Regions from separate parts of the Homo sapiens genome. Here region 2 is linked to region 1. The links come from fine-mapping of genetic effects on gene expression. Tissue or cell type: whole blood. Region 1 holds a variant in brackets; the other region holds the start of a gene. All regions are shown on one strand. Distances are between the middles of the regions.

Region 1 (8,107 bases):
ATAGGGCATCCTTGTCTTGTGCTGGTTTTCAAAGGGAATGCTTCCAGTGTTTCACCATTCAGTATTGGCTGTGGGTTTTTCATAAATAGGTCTTATTATTTTGAGATACGTTCCATCAGTACCTAGTTTATTGAGAGTTTTTAGCATGAAGGGCTGTTGAATTTTGTCGAAGGCCTTTTCTGCATCTATTGAGAGAAGCATGTGGTTTTTGCCATTGGTTCTATTTATATGATGAATTATGTTTATTGATTTGCGTATGTTGAACTAGCCTTGCATCCCAGGGATGAAGCCGATTTGATTGTGATGGACAAGCTTTTGATGTGCTGCTGGATTTGGTTTGCCAGTATTTTATTGAGGATTTTTGCATCGATGTTCATCAGGGATATTGGCTTGAAATTTTCTTTTTTTTGTTGTGTCTCTGCCAAATTTTGGTACCAGAATGATTCTGGCCTCATAAAATGAGTTAGGGAGGATTCCCTCTTTTTCTGTTGTTTGGAATAGTTTCAGAAGGAATGGTACCAGTTCCTCTTTGTACCTCTGGTAGAGTTCAGCTGTGAATCCATCTGGTCCTGGACTGTTTTTTGGTTGGTAGGCTATTAATTACTGCCACAATTTCAGACCTTGTTATTGGTCTATTCAGGGATTCAACTTCTTCATGGTTTAGCCTTGGGAGGGTGTATGTGTCCAGGAATTTGTCCATTTCTTCTAGATTTTCTAGTTTGTGTAGAGGTGTTTATAGTATTCTCTGATAGTAGTTTGTATTTCTGTGGGATCAGTGGTGGTATCTCCTTTATCATTTTTTATTGCATCTGTTTGATTCTTCTCTCTTTTCTTCTTTATGAGTCTGGCTAGTGGTCTGTTTATTTTATTGATCTTTTCAAAAACCAGCTCCTGGATTCATTGATTTTTTTTGAAGGTTTTTTTGTGTTTCTATCTCCTTCAGTTCTGCTCTGATCTTAGTTATTTATTGTCTTCTGCTAGCTTTTTGTATGCTCCTGCCTCTTGAGTTCTTTTAATTGAGATGTTAGGGTGTCAATTTTAGATCTTTCCTGCTTTCTCTTGTGGGCATTTAGTGCTATAAATTTCCCTCTACACACTGCTATAATTGTGTACCAGAGATTCTGGTATGTTATGTCTTTGTTCTCATTGGTTTCAAATAACTTATTTATTTCTGCCTTAATATCTTTATTTACCCAGTAGTTGTTCAGGAGCAGGTTGTTCAGTTTACATGTAGTTGTGTGGGTTTGAGTCAGTTTCTTAATCCTGAGTTCTAATTTAATTGCACTGCGATCTGAGAGACTGTTATAATTCTCATTTTTTTTTTTGCATTTGCTGAGGAGTGTTTTACTTCCAAATATGTGGTCAATTTTAGAATAAGTGCAATGTGATGCTGAGAAGAATGTATATTCTGTTGATTTGGGGTGGAGAGTTCTGTAGATGTCTATTGGATCCACTTGGTCTAGAGCTGAGTTCAAGTCCTGGATATCCTTGTTAACTTTCTGTTTCGTTGATCTGTCTAGTATTGACAGTGGGATGTTAAAGTCTCCCACTATTATTGTGTGAGGGTCTAAGTCTCTTTTTAAGTCTCTAAGAGCTTACTTTATGCATCTGGGTGCTCCTGTATTGGGTGCATATATATTTAGGATAATTAGCTCTTCTTGTTGCATTGATCCTTTTCCATTATGCAATGCCCTTATTTGTCTCTTTTGATCTTTGTTGGTTTAAAGTCTGTTTTATCAGAGACTAGGGTTACAACCCCTGCTTTTTTTTGCCTTCCATTTGCTTGGTAAGTATTCCTCCATCCCTTTATTTTGAGCCTATTTGTGTCTGTGCACGTGAGATGGGTCTCCTGAATACAGAACACTGATGGGTCTTGACTCTTTAGCCAATTTGCCAGTCTGTGTTTTTTAATTGGAGCATTTAGCCCATTTACATTTAAGGTTGATATTGTTATGTGTGAATTTGATCCTGTCATTATGATGCTAGCTGGTTATTTTGCTGTTAGTTAATGCAGTTTCTTCATAGTGTCAATGGTCTTTACGATTTGGTATGTTTGTGCAGTGGCTGATACCAGTTGTTCCTTTCCATGTTTAGTGCTTCCTTCAGGAGCTCCTTTAAGGCAGGCCTGGTGGTGACAAAATCTGTCAGCATTTGCTTGTCTGTAAAGGATTTTATTTCTCCTTCACTTATGAAGCTTAGTTTGGCTGGATATGAAATCCTGGGTGGAAAATTCTTTTCTTTAAGAATGTTGAATATTGGCCCCCATTCTCTTCTGGCTTGTAGAGTTTCTGCTGATAGATCTGCTGTTAGTCTGATGGGCTTCCCTTTGTGGGTAACCTGACCTTTCTCTCTGGCTGCCCTTAACATTTTTTCCTTCATTTCAACCTTGCTCAATCTGACGACTTTGTGTCTTGGGGTTGCTTTTCTTGAGGAGTGTCTTTGTGATGTTCTTCGTATTTCTGAATTTGAATATTGGCCTGCCTTGCTAGGTTAGGGAAGTTCTCCTGGATAATATCCTGAAGAGTGTTTTCTAACTTGGTTCCATTCTCCCCAACACTTTCAGGTACAGCAATCAAACGTAGATTTGGTCGTTTCACATAGTCCCATATTTCTTGGAGGCTTTGTTCATTTCTTTTCATTCTTTTTTCTCTAATCTTGTCTTCTTGATTTATTTCATTAAGCTGATATTCAATCTCTGATATCTTTTCTTCCGCTTGATCGAATCAGTGCTTCATCCTTGTGCATGCTGCATGAAGTTCTCATGGCGTGTTTTTCAGCTCCATCAGGTCATTTATGTTCTTCTCTAAACTGGTTATTCTAGTTAGCAATTGGTCTAGCCTTTTTTCCAGGTCCTTAGCTTCCTTACATTGGGTTAGGACATGCTCCTTTAGCTTGGAGGAGTTTGTTATTACCTACCTTCTGAAACCTACTTCTCTTAATTCGTCAAACTCATTCTCCATCCAGTTTTCTTTTGTTCCCTTGCTGGTGAGGAGTTGTGATCCTTTGGAGGAGAAGAGGCGTTCTGGTTTTCGGAATTTTCAGCCTTTTTGCTCTGGTTTCTCTCCATCTTCGTGGATTTATCTACCTGTGGTTTCTGATGTTGGTGACCTTCTGATGGGGTCACTGAGTGGCTGTCCTTTTTGTTGATGTTGATGCTATTCCTTTTTGTTTGTTAGTTTTCCTTCTAACAGTCAGGCCCCTCTGCTGCAGGTCTGTTGGGGTTTGCCGTAGGTCTACTCTAGACCCTGTTTGCCTGGGTATCACCAGCGGAGGCTGGAGAACAGCAAAGATTGCTGCCTGTTTCTTCCTCTGGAAGTTTTGTCCCAGAGGGGCACCCACCAGATGCCAGCCAGAGCTCTCCTGTATGAGGTGCCTGTTGGCACCTACTGGGAGGTGTCTCCCAGTCAGGATACACGGGGTCAGGGACCCACTTGAGGAGGCAGTCTGACCCTTATCAGAGCTCGAATGCTGTGCTGGGAGATCTGCTGCTCTCTTCAGAGCCATCAGGCTTTTCAAGGATGCTCAAAGTCTGCTGAAGCTGTGCCCACAGGCGCCCTTTCCCCTAGGTGCTCTGTTCCGGGGAGATGGGGGTTTTATCTATAGGTCTCTGACTGGGGCTGCTGCCCTTTTTTCAGAGATGCCTTGCCCAGAGAGGAGAAATCTAGAGAGGCAGTCTGGCTGCTGTGGCCTTGCTGAGTTGTGGTGGGCTCCACCCAGTTCAAACTTTCTGGTGGCTTTGTTTACACTGTGGGGGTAAAACTGCCTACTCAAGCCTTGGCAATGTGGAAGCCCCTCCCCCCACCAAGCTCGAGTGTCCTAGGTCAACCTCAGACTGCTGTGCAAGAATTTCAAGCCAGTGGATCTTAGCTTCTGGGCTCTGTAGGGGTGGGACCCGCCGAGCCAGACCACTTGGCTCCCTGGCTTCAGCCCCCTTTCCAGGAGAGAGAATGGTTCTGTCTTGTTGGCATTCCAGTTGCCACTGCGGCATGAAAAAAAAAAAACTCCTGCAGCTAGCTCGGTGTCTGCCCAAACAGCTGCCTAGTTTTCTGCTTGAAACCTAGGGCCTTGGTGGCAGAGGCACTGGAGGGAATCTCCTGGTCTGTGGATTGTGAAGACCGTGAGAAAAGCATAGTTTCTGGGTGGAGTGCACCGTTCCTCATGGTACAGTCCCTCGGGGCTTCCCTTGGCTAGGGGAGGGAATTCCCCCAACCCCTTGCACTTCCCGGGTGAGGCGAAGCCCCATTCTGCTTTGGCTCACCCTC[C/T]GTGGGCTGCACCCACTGTCCAACCAGTCCCAGTGAGATGAACCAGGTACCTCAGTTGGAAATGCAGAAATCACCTGCATTCTGCATTGATCTCACTGGGAGCTGCAGACTGGAGCTGTTCCTATTTGGCCATGTTGCCAGCAAATTCTGAGATTTTTTTTAAAAGTGCAAAGAAGGACATCTGAGGGGTGCTGACATATTCGGGTCACCTCAAGCCACATGCCAGCTTGCTTGCCCCTGTTGGATTCAGCGGAGGGAGATAGGCCTTGCTATACCTGTGGTGTCTGCCAAAGCTTCCTCCTGGCAATTCTTGGGAGTGCTGATACCTGGGCCACAGTTAGTCCAAGTTTATCACTGAAGATCCTATCAAAGTTTTGTCTGAAATTCCACTTTTGCCTTTTGTCCTAAGTGGTTGTGGACATCTCCAGGGGCTGATACCAAGGACTAGGAACAGCTGAGGGAGGCAGAAAGGTTCAGAGTACATTTCTATTTACAGGGAACAGAACACCGGCCTCCGAGAGTCCATGGAGCAATGGGAAAATTGCAGTGATTGCTCATCACTGTGAAACTTCTACTTTGAATACAGTATCTTCTGGCAAGCACTGGGGACTGCAGTCGACAATGCTGCTGAATATACCTGAGTACATAGTAAGACATTTGTTTGGTAAACAGTCAATGCATACAATAAATTACCTTGAGAGGGCCATCTGTGCTCCAGATGTGAGAGTTCATGTGAATAGAATGGCCACAATTCAAAGAATCTTCACAGGAAAACGGCTCAGAGCTCATCTACAATGGACAGACAGGGAGGGAAACAGGTGAAGATTAGTTCACCACTTCCTCATAAGAAGGTAATAAATAGTTTGGTGAAATAAAATGGTAGCACTGAGTAATTGCGGGCTTCTGGATAGGCAGTCAGGTTGATTTCATGTTGCTACTGCTAGACTTGAGGGCTGGCTTGGCTGTGGTGGCAGACACAGCAGCAGCTCAGGATGATGGTGATGGTCCATGCCAACCAGAACCATCAATGTTTATAGTAGTAGTTACAACACTGAGACTGCCCATAGCAGTGTCCTGTTGTGTCACAGATGTAGCTTTGATTGTTGGTACACACACAGGCTTCCTTATCCTGTGGGGGTTCAGCCCTGGCTGACACAGGGCTGGGCAGTGCCTAGAGGTGCAAGAGCTTCATGCCACCCAGGAGTCTTCCCTCCATACTCCTCCTGCTCCTCCGACCCAGCGCGGGCACCTCCCTCCACCCTTGCTGCACTTCTCCTCTACCCTCTTCTTCCTTCTTTTGTTCTTTTCCTGTAATATGTTTTGAAGTCAGATTGTGAGGCCTTCAGCTTTGTTCTTATTGCTCAAGAGTCCTTTAGTTATTCAGGGTCCTTTGTGGTTCCATATAAATTTTCAAATTGTTTTTTCTATTTCTGTGAAGAATGACATTGAAATTTTGATAAATATTGCATTAAACCTATAAATCACTTTGGGCAGTAAGGACATTTTAAGAATATTAATTCTTCCTACCCATGAACATAAAATATCTTTCCATGTATTCATGTCATCTACAATTTTTTCATCAATGTTTTATAGTGTTCAGAATACAGATCTTTCACCTCCTTGGTTAAATGTACTCCTAAGTACAATCCTAAATGTGCTCCTAAACAAAAAAAAATACGGTTTTTTTGATGCTACCGTGAATGAGATTGATTTCTTTATTTTTGTCATATAGTTTGTTGTCAGTGTAAAGAAACTACTGAGTTTTATACATTGATTTTGAATTCTGCAATTTTATTGAATTCATTTATCATTTCTAATAGCTTTTTGGTGGAGTTTTTAGGGTTTCCTATATATAATATGTCATCAAACAGAGACAATTTTACTTCTTCCTTTTCAATTTGAATATCTTTTATTTCTTTATTTGGCTTAATTGCTCTGGCTAGGACTTCCAGAAATAAGTTGAATAGAAGTAGTGAGAATAAATATCCTTGTCTTGTTCTTGATCTTAGCAGAAAAGATTTCACTTTTTCATTGTTGGGTATGATGTGAGCTGTGAGCTTGTTATATATGTCCTGTTTTGTGTTAAGGTACATGCCTTCTACGCCCAATTTGTTGAGAGATTTTGTCATGAGAGGATTTTGAATTTAGTCAAATGCTTTTTCTGCATATATAGAGATAGCTATTTTTTTTATCCTTCATTCTGTTAATGTGGTTTATCACATTTGATTTGTGTATGCTGAACCATCTGGAGGATAAATCCACTTTATCATGGTAAATGTTCTCCTAATGTGTTGCTAAATTCTGTTTGCTAGCACTTTTTTTTGAGGACTTTTGTATCTATGTTCATCAGGGATATTGGTTGACCCATACTTTTCTTATAGTGTCCTTGTTTGCCTTTTTATTTTTGTTTTTATTTTTTCGTTTTTGTTTTTTTATTATACTTCAAGTTTTAGGGTACATGTGCACAACGTGCAGGTTAGTTACATATGTATACATGTGCCATGCTGGTGTGCTGCTCCCATTAACTCATCATTTAACATTAGGTATATCTCCTAATGCTATCCCTCCCCCCTCCCCCCACCCCACAACAGGCCCCAGTGCTAATATCCAGAATCTACAATGAATTCAAACAAATTTACAAGAAAAAAACAAACAACCCCATCAAAAAGTGGGCAAAGGATATGAACAGACACTTCTCAAAAGAAGACATTTATGCAGCCAACAGACGCATGAAGAAATGCTCATCATCACTGGCCATCAGAGAAATGCAAATCAAAACCACAATGAGATATCATCTAACACCAGTTAGAATGGCCATCATTAAAAAGTCAGGAAACAACAGGTGCTGGAGAGGATGTGGAGAAATAGGAACATTTTTACACTGTTGGTGGGACTGTAAACTAGTTCAACCATTGTGGAAGACAGTGTGGCGATTCCTCAAGGATCTAGAACTAGAAATACCATTTGACCCAGCCATCCCATTACTGGGTATATACCCAAAGGATTACAAATCATGCTGCTATAAAGACACATGCACACATATGTTTATTGTGGCACTGTTCACAATAGCAAAGACTTGGAACCAATCCAAATGTCCAACAATGATAGACTGGATTAAGAAAATGTGGCACATATACACCATGGAATACTATGCAGCCATAAAAAAGGATGAGTTCATGTCCTTTGTAGGGACATGGATGAAGCTGGAAACCATCATTCTCAGCAAACTATTGCAACGACAAAAAACCAAACACCACATGTTCTCACTCATAGGTGGGAATTGGACAATGAGAACACATGGACACAGGAAGGGGAACATCACTTTAAAAAAAAAAACAATAATGCTGATCTTTTAAAATGAGTTTGGAAATACTCTTTCTCCTTCAAGTTTTTGGAAGAATTTCAGAAGGATTGTATTATTATTTTTTAAAATGTTAGAATTCAGCAATGAAGTTTTCTGGTCCTGGGATGTTCTTTGATGGGAGATGTTTTATTATTGATATACTCTCCATACTCAGTATTGTTCTGTTCAGATTTTATCTTTCTTCTTGACTTTCTCTAGGTAAGTTGCATTTTTCTAGAAATTTATCTGCTTTTTCTAGGTTATCCAATTTGTTGGCTTGTAATTGTTTATAGTGGCCTCTTATGATCCTCTGTATTTCTGTGGTATTAGTTGCAATATTTCCTCTTTCATTTCTGATTTTATTGCTTTGAGTATTCTCTCGTTTTTCTAGTCTAGCTAATGGTTTGTCAGTTTTGTTTATCTTTTCAAAGAACAAATTCTTAGTTTCATTGATCTGTTCTATTTTCTTTCACAGTCTTTTTTGTATTTGAAGGACTCGTAT
Region 2 (8,107 bases), 230 kb before region 1:
TTGCAGTGCATATTTTTCAAAATCATTTTTATGTGGTCACACATCTCTGGAAGCATCATGTATATATATGTATACATATATATACACATACACACATTATTTTTTTTTCTTTTTTTGAGATGGAGTCTCGCTCTGTCGCCCAGGCTGGAATGCGGTGGTGCAATCTCGGCTCACTTCAACCTCCGCCTCCCAGGTTCAAGCGATTCTCCTGCCTCAGCCTCCTGAGTAGCTGGGATTAGAGACGCACCCCACCACGCCCAGCTAATTTTTGTATTTTTAGTACAGATGGGGTTTCACCATGTTGGCCAGGCTGGTCTCAACCTCTGACCTCAGGTGATTCACCTGCCTCGGCCTGCCAAAGTGCTGGGATTACAGGTGTAGGCCACCACGCCCGGCCCATGTTTGTTATTTTTTTTAACATTTCACAAATTTGCATGTCATTTTTGCAGAAGAGCCATCCTAATTCTCTCTGTATGGTTCCAACTTTGGCATATGCGCTGATGAAGCAAGTACTATTCATTTTCTTATCAATGCAAAAACCACTTTTTATGGAAAACATTCAAATATGGGTAAGGCATCACTTGATTTAGGCAAACAGTTGGATCTGCAAAATAATACGTTTACATCTGCCTATTTTCAGTGATGTGCTTAAAACACACTTTTTTTAATGGTTTTTTAAAAAGTAGGTGACACATGTACATGGAACACATGTCAAGACACAACAGGAGAGTGAGAAGTGAGCCGGCCTCGTCTGGCCCAGCCGCCGGGAGCCCCTGCCCTCCCCAGGCCAAGTACGCTCTGTGCTTCCAGAGAGAGCTGATTCTACACATAGGCACATTTATGTCACCTACATTTAATGTTCCCCAATACTTTCACTTAATTTTGGACATCTATCAGTACATTACCTCTAGAGCTGCCTAGTTCTTTTTAATGGCTACAAGGTGTTTATTCTATTACACGTGTACCATAAATTAAGCAGTTCTTAGACATTTCACTTCTTTTGAATCTTTTGCTTTAATGAGCAATGCAGCTAAAAAATAAGCACACTTATCTGCATCCATGTATAATGATATCTATAACATAAATTCCTACATGTACAACTACGAGCTCAACGATTGTGTGCATGTGTAAGTTTAACAGATATGGCAAATCGCCTACAAGAGGTTGATCAATTTGATTACCTATTAATAAGATATGAGCATCTGACCCTTATACTCTCACAAACTCAGAGTTAATCAAATTAAAAAAAAATTGCCAATCTAAGGGTTAAAAATGTATTAATTAAATACTATGAGAAAACTTATATGTTTTTCATGTTATATATCTATTTGTATTTCCTTTCCTATGAACCATCTGCTCATGTCCTAACACTGTTTTTCTACAAGACTGTCATCTTTTCCGTGTGGGTTTTAGGAAGTGTTTATATATTACTGATATTACTGTATTATTTGTCACATATTCTAGAAACGCTTTTTCCTAGTTTGCCATGTCTTTTGCCTTTATGCTTTTTTTTTTAGGTCATGCAGAAATCTCCAATTTTTAGGAGTCAAATGTATCAATTCTTTATTTTATGGCTTCTAAACTTTATTTCATACTTAGAAAAATATTCTCCATTTTGGGATTATAACAGCAACTATCTGGTGTTTTCTGTGGTACTTCAGGGTTTCATTTTTCACATTACATCTTTGGACTATCTGGAATTTATTCTGGATAAGACAGGCGTTCCACTTAATTTTGTTCTAGAGAGCTACCAGGCATTCCGGCATTTACTGAATCCATCTTCTCACCACAGATAAGCACTGGCCCTTCAAAAGCTCATCTATGGCAGAAAGACACTGCCACCCCCTCTGTACACTAGCTGTCACTATTGAGAACACAGAATCCATCTGAACGAATTAGACTTGCTTCAGATATGCTAGTAGACTGAGATCTTCTCCAGTCCTACAAAGCAACATTTCTGTCAAGTGCATTTCCAGCAGACATCAACTGGCTTGACAGTTATCATTATAACTAAAACAGTAGTGAGCTGATATGGAAAGGTCTATTGGGTTTTTTAATTTATTTCTGCTTACATACTCAAAAGGGAAATCATAAAAGAATATAAAAATTCTTCAGAATTTCTTCCCAATAATCAAGTCTGAATTGTTCTTCTAACTTAAAGTTTACAATGAATTTATTTAGAATAAGTAAGCTGCAGTACTTACAACACAGGTAACAGATGGTTTCACTGCACAGTCAAAAGTGACAGGCTTCCCATAGGTACAGGAGAAATTTGTTGTGCAGTCTATACAGTCTGCAGGAAGCCTGCTACACAAACCATTGCTCGGACACTTCATCACATAAGGTGGGATTTCAGTACTTTCTGTGAGAGGCAAGAGAGAAGCTTATTCTCCTATAATACTGATTCGAATAACAGAGAACAATCTTCTAAGGTTAAGAGACGTGATCATTAGCAAGTAGACACTGCACTGGAAGGGAAGAAGCATGGGACTGGAGTCAGAGACACCTGCAATTAAAGCAGAATTCTGCCCACGGCCAGCTGTGGGACCTGGTGAGCACCACACTTGTAAAACATTACTTCATTCCTGCCTCCCACGTGGCCGTGAAAACTAAAGGTGCTCATATACAAATAATGTATAGAAAATTCTGGGTATACATTAAGGGCTTAAAAAAAAGACTATCATTTTGTAAGTTGAAAAAAAACTTACAGTAGGGTTTTGCAAAATCACAGAGGAAGTCTGTGGCAAAACTGGAACTAGAACCCAAATCTCTCCATTTCCAATCCCGTGTTCTTTTCATCTGAATTCACTAATTCAGAAATGAAGCCACTGACATCCTCAGGGCATCAACTTTAAAATGTCATTATTTCACACTGGTACTTCGATAAGCCACATTTGCTAATATAATATTTACAGTTTTACGCTACCAAAGTTCAAAACAGTTCTCTACTTTAATAACATCTTCAGTAAGCTGCAACTTATTTCCAACCAACCTAATGAGTGTGCAATGTATTTTTACCAACTGAAAGGATCAAAATTGCAAGTATTCCTGAAAAGAAGGGCTTTCAAAAGCCTGCAAGAGTTAAGAACTCTTGTGCTTTCTCTAAAAAGTAATCTGAGTTTAAAATTCAAGTGCACTGCTGTTTTTTACATCCAAATAAGAATCAGTAAAATATCTCTGCCAGTTTCAATTCACTGAAGTAATGTCACTTTAAAGTGATGAAATTATAGTCAGAGCCTCCACCTAGCAAAACACACTAATGCTTGTTTAAAACTGGTCCTACTTTACTCACTGTATTAAGGAACAATTCTACAAAATACTCTTTTTGATCCCGTGACTATGTGGCTGGAAGGTGGACACTTAGAATCACAAAGCAGAAATGACTTTAGGTCGTCAGACCAACCCCACCGCTTTAAAGATGAGGACCAAGGTCCAAAGAGGATAAATAATTTGTTCAAGATCCCAGTAGCAAAACCAGATCTAGATTTCAAGTCTCCATCAGTCCCGCTGTAATCCTTCCATTTCCACAGTCCTGAGGGAGCCTTTAATATTCCAACATCAGGAACAGGGTTTTAGCAGTAGAGGAAATTTGCTGAAGGGAAAGAAGCACGGACTGAAGGTTATTTTGATGGATGAAGTGGAAAAATAATAGAAATAAGGTGACAAATGAGCGTGGGATTGGAAAAAGAGAGGAGGCAGAAACGTCAAAAGGTATAAATACGAAGACTATCTACTGAAAATGGCTGTGTATCTACCCTTAATTCACATAATCTAAAATACAATAAATATTCAAAAATGGAAAGTGACTTCGTATACTAAAGGGAATTTTTATAAAAACAAAGAGAAACTACTAGAGATAACTACATGTATTTACTAGAATAGAAAACGTCTAGTACCTGCTGCCCTGGGAACTACTGTGAATGTGCGTGTTGGGCCCGGATCCTTTATTGACTGAGCCAGCGCCTGCGATTGCTCTAAATTTAAGGATCGTACAATTAGAGAAACACGTTATCCCGGGACAAGAAAACCTTATTTTGTGTGGTTAACACGGCGGGTCTACACCAGGCCAATAAGCTGCTCATGAAAACCTCACGGCTGGTCAGCCAGAAAACACAAAGCTTAGGGACGAAACGTCAACAGAGTAGACATCAGTTCAGGTCAGCCGGCAACGAGGGACCGAAGGATGACATCGCGCTCCAGTTCCGCCTCCCCGGCCCAGCCCCCAAGCGCTCCATCTCCGTGCCAGGGCTCCGCAGCCGCGATGGCGGGCTCGGTGTCGCCGGAGCGGAGGGGCGGCCTCGGGCCGGGCGGCCAGGGCGCCAGACTCCAGATGCAGCGACAAGCGGCCCGGAGCCCGGCACTCGGCCTCCTCCCCGCGTCAGCGTCCGCCCGTGGGCCCGGCCTCCTCGCAGCTCCCGGGGCCCTGCTGCCACTCAGCCCCACCCGGCGCTGAACCCAGCCTTTGACTCACCACCGCCCGACAGAATGCAGAACTGCGAGAGGAAGAGCAGCACGCGACACAAGGCGCGGAGGCCCCTCAGCGGGAGCACCCCTCCCGCCATCTTGCCAGCGCCTGCGCACTTCCGGGCCGGGGGGCGGGGCGCGCCTGGGAGCCGGAGCGTGAACTGGACGCAGGCGCGCTGCGACTCCTGGCGGCCGGCGTTTGCGCTTTCGCTGTCCTCGCGCGGGTCGCGGGTTTTCTTCCGGTTGAGCCTTCTGGGAGGTCCCCGAGGAGGATGCGAGCCTGGGAGGTTGTTCCATTTCCACGCGCCCCTCACGCCCTTGGACGAGGCCCTCACCCCTGGTTCCACTGCAGGAGACCTGTTAAAGGTCATCCGTGGACCGAAATGCGCGCCCGAAGCAACCAAGAGCAGAGGCGGGCGAACGCGGGAGGCTGGCCGCCCCAGTGTGTGGTCGGATGTTGTGTGCTGGATCTCGTGCGAAGGTTCCGAGGACACTATCGCGTGGCGTTTCATCCTAAAGACACTTATTTACAGTCGGGGAAGCGGCCCCGGGACGACGAGGGCCCGAGGGACCCCTCCCCTGGGGCCGGCGCTCAGGCCTGCCGCGGCTTTCACTTCTGGCCGGCCTCTTGAAGATACGCAGCACTTCCAGAAAGTTCCTCTCAGGCCTGGAGAAGCAGGATGGCCCGAGGCGCTGGGAAGTGAGGGGAGGGTCCAGAGCCCAGCCCTGCCTGGGGAAGGTCGCGGCCGTCTGGGGAGCCGCGCTCAGGCCCCAGCTTGCGGAGACCCTTGCCGGTTTCTGTCACAGCACACCTGGGAGAAAGCGCTGGTGACAGGTGCTCTCCTCCCACCCACGTGCTTCGGGATCGTTCATTCCGCGGTCTTCTGACTACCACCCCCTCACGTGCATGTTTGCTGAATGACTTTTTAAAAAATACATGGAAAAGTGCCGGCACATAAGCCCTGAATGTTAGCTTTAAAAATCGTATCACGGCCGGGGGCGGTGAATCACGTCTGTAATCCCAGCACTTTGGGAGGCCCAGGCGGGCGGATCACGAGGTTAGGAAATCGAAACCATCCTGGCTAACAACACGGTGAAACCCTGTCTCTACTAAAAATACAAAAAAATTAGCCAGGCGTGGAGGCACGCGCCTGTGGTCCCAGCTACTGGGGAAGCTGAGGCAGGAGAATCGCCTAAACCCGGGAAGCGGAGGTTGTAGTGAGCCGAGATCGCGCCACTGCACTCCAGCCTGGGTGACAGAGCGAGACTCCGTCTCAAAAAATAAATAATAAAAATCATATCACACAATCTGCACCTTATACTACTACACAAGCCTGATATATATTGTTTTGTTTGCCAACTGTTTCACTGTTCACATCCCTCAGGAAGTTAACTAAATGATCAGTATATTGAAAAGAGATTATTTCTTACATTTCTTTTGAATTTCACAGCATATCGCAAAATAAACAATACTTCTTGTTTGGTAGCTGAATTCTCTATTGACATAATGCCATTTTAATTCAGTTCTGAGCACGTAGAGCATTCCTCTCTTTAAAATCTGAAATCCATTTCAGTACATAAATCCATGGAATGTCATCCCATCAAAAAAGTAACAACTCTAGGTGAGCGGCTTAGTGGTGGTAGAAGCCCACAGCTGAAACGCTGGAAACACTGATGCAATTCATTTGGGAATTTATTTTTTTCTAAAGCGGAACAAAACCTAATTATGAATAAGAAACATTTAAATGGCAACTCTTAACCTATAGTGCAAACACCAGATTCCACAAAACTGAATTCCTTTGTCAGTAATCCAATATTTAGCAGTAGCTGCTGCTTTTGTGGTTGTTGGTTAGTTAAAATTAAGTAATGATTCCAGTTTAGAAGATAAAGTTTCAGTGTGAATTTTAGTAGAAGTCATAAAAATACCTGAGACATATTAGAAAATAAGATTTTCCCTCCTATTTAAAAAAAACTCTGCAGACTTTTATTTGAAGCCCATCTTTTGAAAATCACTAACATTTCATAATCATTTCCTAGTGTTTTGTTTCACTTTCTCGATGAATAATATTTCCCCATTTAAGTTTCTCAAGGCATTGATTGCTGGAAAATTTCCCACGTGCCCTCTAAACGTCCCCCGTGGACATGAGTAAATTAAACTTCGTGCATGTCAGCTACACGTTCATCGTCTCCTTTCTCAGCTGAGGCCATGAGTGGACCCATCAGTGGCTCCAAAGTCGTAGAAGTACTAACATGTTAAGAAAAATACATTTTTAAGGGTCAAAACAAAGTTACACAGAAGCAAATATCAGGGAAGGACTTCAAAAGGCCTCCTCAGCATTGAGTGTCCGTGTCTTCCTGAGATTCTTCAGTTTATCAATGGCAGAAGTTACTAAAATCTCTCCATGAATTTTGTTGTCTCTTGTTCGCACGTTTACAGCATTATCTATCTTTTCCTTTTCTCCAACCACTGCAGAAAAGAAAGGTAAAGAAATGTATTTTAAATCAGCAATTTACCAAACATTAAGTCAGCAGTCCCATGACATGTTTTTATCAAGTTTTTCTTCACTAATATTAAATATCATCTAATGAGCATTTGGTTCATCCTCTGATAGTTAAGTTTCTTGAGGGAAGCAATGACTTCTGATCCCATCTCTCTATTGTCCACCTGAGAGAACAGCTCTTGTGGTCCTGGGGTGCAGATGAGAGGGGGGAGCTCTTACAGACTCACACTGACTGCACCTGGCACTAGGGCGCAAATGAGAGCGGGGAGCTCTTACAGGCTCACAGTGACCCCACCTGGCACTAGGGCGCAAATGAGAGCGGGGAGCTCTTACAGGCTCACACTGACCCCACCTGGCACTAGGGTGCAAATGAGAGCGGGGAGCTCTTACAGGCTCACACTGACTCCACCTGGCACTAGGGCGCAAATGAGAGCGGGGAGCTCTTACAGGCTCACACTGACCCCACCTGGCACTAGGGTGCAAATGAGAGGGGGGAGCTCTTACAGGCTCACAGTGACTCCACCTGGCACTAGGGCGCAGATGAGAGGGGGGAGCTCTTACAGGCTCACACTGACCCCACCTGGCACTAGGGTGCAAATGAGAGGGGGGAGCTCTTACAGGCTCACAGTGACTCCACCTGGCACTAGGGCGCAAATGAGAGCGGGGAGCTCTTACAGGCTCACAGTGACTCCACCTGGCACTAGGGCGCAAATGAGAGCGGGGAGCTCTTACAGGCTCACACTGACCCCACCTGGCACTAGGGCGCAAATGAGAGCGGGGAGCTCTTACAGACTCACAGTGACTCCACCTGGCACTAGGGCGCAAATGAGAGCGGGGAGCTCTTACAGGCTCACAGTGACTCCACCTGGCACTAGGGCGCAAATGAGAGCGGGGAGCTCTTACAGACTCACAGTGACTCCACCTGGCACTAGGGTGCAAATGAGAGCGGGGAGCTCTTACAGGCTCACACTGACCCCACCTGGCACTAGGGTGCAGATGAGAGTGGGGAGCTCTTACAGGCTCACACTGACCCCACCTGGCACTAGGGTGCAGATGAGAGCGGGGAGCTCTTACAGGCTCACGCTGACTCCACCTGGCATACCTGATGAGCCAAGGAGTGGACACCAGACCCATGCGAGCCA

What was found. PIP is the estimated chance that this variant, and not a neighbour inherited with it, causes the effect.
Region 2: TM2D3 starts here. The variant in region 1 is fine-mapped to the expression of TM2D3 in whole blood (INTERVAL, PIP above 0.99).

What each region holds. Positions count from the first base shown.
Region 1 is chr15:101,882,290-101,890,396 of GRCh38, forward strand. It overlaps the pseudogene WBP1LP5. Among named protein-coding and RNA genes, the nearest start is that of FAM138E, 69 kb to the right of the region's middle. The variant C/T (reference allele first, on the strand shown) is at 4,263.
Region 2 is chr15:101,647,800-101,655,906 of GRCh38, forward strand. It overlaps TM2D3 (TM2 domain containing 3), which reads right to left and starts at 4,582. Exons shown (of 6, transcript NM_078474.3): 1 at 4,472-4,582; 2 at 3,897-3,974; 3 at 2,205-2,362. The coding sequence starts at 4,562. It overlaps TARS3 (threonyl-tRNA synthetase 3), which reads right to left. Exons shown (of 19, transcript NM_152334.3): 19 at 5,797-6,931. The coding sequence ends at 6,783. It also overlaps the pseudogene RNU6-807P. RefSeq lists silencers at 4,170-4,729, 4,970-5,159 and enhancers at 4,820-4,879, 4,986-5,876.